Linked DNA regions of Homo sapiens: region 2 is linked to region 1. A link means that fine-mapping ties the variant in region 1 to the expression of a gene that starts in the linked region. Tissue or cell type: whole blood. Region 1 holds a variant in brackets; the other region holds the start of a gene. All regions are shown on one strand. Distances are from middle to middle.

What was found. PIP is the estimated chance that this variant, and not a neighbour inherited with it, causes the effect.
Region 2: it holds the start of PCMTD1, and the variant in region 1 is fine-mapped to the expression of PCMTD1 in whole blood (INTERVAL, PIP above 0.99).

Annotation. Positions count from the first base shown.
Region 1 is chr8:51,757,963-51,760,462 of GRCh38, forward strand. The region is part of intron 1 of PXDNL (peroxidasin like); the gene reads right to left. LOC105375833 (a long non-coding RNA gene) reads right to left here. Exons shown (of 3, transcript XR_928869.3): 2 at 2,252-2,320. Among named protein-coding and RNA genes, the nearest start is that of PXDNL, 50 kb to the right of the region's middle. The variant C/A (reference allele first, on the strand shown) is at 992.
Region 2 is chr8:51,897,698-51,900,550 of GRCh38, forward strand. PCMTD1 (protein-L-isoaspartate (D-aspartate) O-methyltransferase domain containing 1) reads right to left here and starts at 1,339. Exons shown (of 6, transcript NM_052937.4): 1 at 1,233-1,339. PCMTD1-DT (PCMTD1 divergent transcript) reads left to right here and starts at 1,618. Exons shown (of 4, transcript NR_189279.1): 1 at 1,618-2,149. RefSeq lists a silencer at 846-1,535 and enhancers at 1,576-1,865, 2,036-2,095, 2,396-2,455.

The DNA of each region.
Region 1 (2,500 bases):
ATGAAAATACCAATTAAATATAAAAAACTGAACATATTTTTCATGTACTTTGAAAAGTTTTTTTAATAATATAAACTACCTTAAAATTAAAGGCAAATGTAAATAATAATGTCAAATTTTAAATTAAATGTATTGAAATTCAACTAAAATCTTTTTCTTATGAAGATTTAATTACATCTTATTAAATATTTTTACAAAAGTAAAGCTATTTGTAATTAAACTTTCAAGGTCTTCCTAGTCACCAGTGGAGTCACCACCTCACACGTATTATAGCTAAACATACATATATATGAATGTAAGAATATTGTGAATTTAATAATAAGATGAATTGTCTAATATTCCTTAGCCACCATGTGCAAGTATCACAAATTCCATGCTAATGTATGAGTAATTCCCGACCATATTTGGTTCATAAAGAAATGCAAGGAAATAGATGTTCAACACTACATGGAAAAAATACTTTGCAACAATTAGAATGCTATTTCAAGCTGAGGGAAGGGATTTGACAAGTGATATGGTTAAGCTTTGTGTCCCACCCAAATCTCATCTTGAATTATAATCCCCATAATCCCCATGTGTCAAGGGCGAGACGTACTGGAGATAATTGGATCATGGTAGTGGTTTTCCTTATGCTGTTCTTGTGATAGTGAGTTTTCACGAGATCTGATGGTTTTATAAACGTTTGGTAGTTCCTCCCAGATGCATTCTCCTTCCTGCCACCTTGTGAAGAAGGTGCCTTCCCTTCACCTTCTGCCATGACTGTAAGTTTCTGAGGCCTCCCCAGTCATGCAGAACTGTGAGTCAATTAAACCTCTTTCCTTTATAAATCACCCAGTCTCAGGCAGGTCTCTACAGAAGTGTAAAAATGGACTCATACAGCCAGTTAATGTGCTTGTGCTTTCTCTTACCTACAAATTTCCACAGCTCTAATCCTCCCTGAGCAACAAAGCAGTGACTCTCTCCAGTGTTGCCACTGCTACTACCTATGAAT[C/A]TTGGCAGATTTGGAAACTCAGTATCACCTTTTGTTTTGAGGACAAAGAGCAAGACATGGGGAGAAGCATTTCCTGGGGCTGGAATAGAATGGACCATGAGAATAGGAGTCAGGGTTTCAGGGTGCTCTGTGCCAGCACTGAGTACTGGACCTGATGTACAGAGGCTCCCAGGGGTTCTTTGTTTGCCCCCGCATTGGTTGAAGAAGGTACCTCATCTACTCAGTCTTGTGATGCTCTCCCACAGCCACTAAGCTCTAGCCAACCTCACTGCCCTCTTTCAGTCTCTGTCCAAATTTATTCCTGTCTTAGAATTCACATCTCTGCTTGGCTGCCTCTTCTATCTGAAAGCGTCAATTTAAATGCCACCTTCTCTGGCAGGCCAGCCCTGATGAAGTTTCTAAATAAGTTCATCCCCCACCACCAGTGCCCCCTCACTGCACTCCGCTTCCTGCATAGGACGTCTCAGAATTTGCACTCTGTATTTAATCATTTTCTCTTGATTATCTATGTCCCCGATTTGAGTGTGAGAGCCACAGGGAGGGCCATGAAGCACTCTGACCAGCACAAAATAGGCACGCCCTAAATACTGGAGGGAGAGAGAGAGTAGGAGAGCAGAGAATCCTCCTCAGGCAAGAATGACTGATGGATTAGTTCTCCATTTAAAAATACTTCCAGAGATGACCATTCCTTTGTCATGCTTTAAGAGCTGTGCTGCAAGAAACTAAATAGCAATAAGCAAGAAGAACACAAATTACATTGTTCTTATACTTGACTGAACGTCAAAGGAGCCAAGTTCCCCACCTGCTCCAGTTTCCTAGACAGATGTCTGAACATTTAATTTAACGTGGGTCTTCATTTCCTGCCCAGTGAAATATCTTGCTTGGTGACAGGGTTGTTACAAGGATGAATTGGCCAAGGCAATGCCCTCGGGGCACCTAACAGTCCTCAGTAAATCCTGCTGACCTCAGCCGCCCCAAAAGTTCAGGTGCTGTTTCTTGAGGGTCCACTTAAGGCCCCTCTCTAACTTCTCTATCAGTTCTGAGGCTACTCTTCTCCAGGTAAAGGAAGAAACTCGAATTCCCTAATAATTAGCTCAGAACCCAAGCTACCCTTGTTGGAATTTATATTTTATAAACAAAAATGTATTTTCATATGTTAAAACTCGGAAGTCCATCAAAAACTGATTGTCTGTCAAGACTAATTTGGAAATCTCTCATTCTTAACAAGTTTAAAGAGTAAAAGTATATATTAATACTTACACAAGTACAAGTTAAGTTTCACACTTGATTGCCTAACTCCACATTCTAGCTGGTGTTTAGTCTAAGATGCTAGACCAGTAGGAAGGAATAAGAGAGTTAGTGAGGTTAGTAAAGCTCACAAAGTAGTATGGTTTACTAGGCTTAATTAAAAAAAAAAAAGCTATTGTGAAATTACAATGAGTAGCATTGTGTTCTAAATAAATATTCAGAGCACAGAAATAAAATGAATCCTCCCTTGGAAATTTGTCA
Region 2 (2,853 bases), 140 kb after region 1:
TTGTAGCCCTTTTCAAAGCTACTGATTATTGAAAACTTGGCGACCATGTTTAACAATGAAGAAAAGGCTTCCCCAAGCCTACGTAGATTGGATTCTCTAATACATAGTAATAATGTTTTTTAAAATAATGAGGTGTGTAATAAAATGGAGGAATATCCATGATGCATTGTTGGCTAATAAAACGATATACTGTACTATATATGATCCCAATCTTGTTTCTAAAGCACACTCATTAAATGCACAGAAAAAAAAAATCCTGAATAACTACCCACCACACTTGGAGACTGGCTACCCTGGGTAGTAAGAAGGAGAAATATGGGGGGAAGGGCGCGAGAGAGGGCAGGTTTCCTCATTGTTTGGCTGCTTCATGTTTTTCTCAAGGAGCAAGCAGTACTTTTGTAATTAAAAAAATAAATAGGGGAAAAACACTGCTAAAAGCATACTTTTTTCCTCCGTAGCAAATTCTTCTGATTTGTAATGTTAAAAATATATCTCTGGTTTCTCGATTCTAAAAAGAGGACACACGAAAACAAAATTATAGAAGTTCCAAAAAATCTTGGATTTGCAAAATTACTCCCTCGGGTTCTGCCCGTGGGTCCTCCCCATGCCGGTGTCTGAAATTCCCCAAGCAAAACGCGGGCACTGCACTTCCCCGGAACGGTAGTAGACGCTCAAAAACACAAAAAGAGGCCTTGGCGCCTGCTATAACCTCTCAGTCCCCTCCCAGCCCCCGAGACTTCCCCGAGTCTACGTAGACTGGATTCTCTGCCTCCAAAACCAAAACAGAAGTCACTGGGCGGATCCAAAACGGCCCTAAGGGGCCCGCGGGCATCTCAAGACGCCAGCCTCGGGACTCTGGTCCCCAAGCCCAGGTCAGAGCCGAGGACGAGCCGAGGACGGGCCGAGGACGCGGCGCCCCGGCCTCCCTCGGGCCCCCGACCTCCCCGGCCCCAGGGACCCCGGCTCCCGACCTCCAGGCTTCGCTGGGCCCCTTTCGACTCCCCGACCTCCCAAGTCCTCCGCCCCCGGCCCGTCCTTCCCCCAACCTGCCCCGCAGCGCCTCAGTTTCCTGGCCCCCGACCTGCCCGCCCTTAAGTCCCCCTGCCCCCGACTCTTCGGCTGCCGTCCCCCTGGCCCTCTGGCCTCCAAGCGCATCCCAGTCGCCCGCCCGGCCCTAGCACGCGGGACTCGCACACCCCACGACCCCGAGCCCCCACTGGCGGCGGCGTTACCTGTGGCGCGGGCAGCGGCGCGCAGGCCAGGCGCTAGGACTCGGCGGGGTCCGCAGCAGCCAGACGCCGCTACCACCACAATAACAACACGGACGCCACCGCCGAGTGGAGAGGCGGGGCCCGGACCCGCGACTGGAGCAGCCAGAGCCTCCCGGACTCCGGAGCCGCCGGGGTCCGGGCATGCGCAGAGAACCACGGGCACAGGGGCAGCTCCCCGCGGACGCCAAAGTCAACAAGGCCGGGAGACGCCCCCATCTGGCCCCGCCCCCCTCAGGGCTCGCTCCGCCCCCAAGCCCAAACAACGCGAGGCCTTGACAGGCCAGAAGACGATGGCGGTAGGGGAGATCACGCGAGAGCATGGCCTCCACCTCTCCTCCCCACCGCCATCTCCACGTTCTCGCACCGGCGCTGGGGTGCAGGCTTTCAGTGGTCTCAGGGCTACGGCTTGTCGGTGCCTCGCCGCACAGTCCCCTTTGCATTGAAGGACACGGTCTTACGGTGTAGGAGCATTTTTGAGGTGCATTCCTGGATTTGGAGGCGAACCCCCAATGGTTACCTCCACAGAGGCTTTGCGAAGGGCGCTCACTGACTTAGGTGAAGAGCGAAGGCTCAAGACTGTGCCGCTTTATAGTGGCCCCTTGACGTCCAGAAGTTCCCCCCAGCGCCGGTCATAAGCACTCCCGCCGCCTGGGCCCCGCCCTGCCTGCCAGGCGCCCTCCAGCCTCAGCTCCCGGACGCCCGGCGTGGCCGCTTTCTCGCGTCTTGCTGACCCGGGCCGGGGGCGTGTGCTCCTCCTGCAGCGGACGGAAGATGCTGGGCCACGCAAGTTTCCCTGGGCTTGGTTAACCACCCCAAAGCCCATTTCCAGAAGGAAAGGGTGTTGAGGAGGAGGGATAGAAAGTCGAGAAGAGGGCCGGGTGAGTGGCTCACGCCTGTCATCCCAGCACTTTGGGAGGCCGAGACAGGCGGATCACCTGAGGTCAGGACTTAGAGACCAGCCTGGCCTACATGGTGAAACCCCGTCTCTACTAAAAATACAAAAATTAGCCGGGTGTGGTGCCGTGCGCCTGTAGTCCCAGCAACTCGGGAGGCTGAGGTAGGAGAATCGCTTGAACCCGGGAGTCGGAGGTTGCAGTGCTGAGATGGCACCTGGCCTGGGCGGCAAGAGCGAAACTCCATCTCAAAAAAAAAAAGAAGAGGAAATGAGGCATAGGGGCAGGCGAGCCGGGAAAATATTGCTACTAAGGATCCTAAGCAGTGAACATGCTGTTAATACTTGTAAGACTCCTAGCAAACTGCATTTAATTTTTTAAATTAGTTTTAGTGTACATAAAGGCATGTCTTTTCCAAATACTGTACTTTTTGAAGTGTTCTTTGTTGTTCATTAATCTTTGTGCGTTTCCCTTCAGTCTCTAATAGTAGGTTGTAGCATGATTTGCTTCCATCGTGTGAATTCTGTTCGGTTTTGATTTTCAAGTATGAGAGTGAGCGTAAGCTACCCTTATAGGTTACCTAAGGTAAGTTAGAATTAGAACGTCTTTATGCTAGGGTTACTACTCCCCACCATAACCAACCATCTGCAAAAGCGTTCAGAAAGAACATGCTAGCAAGGTCAAAAGCT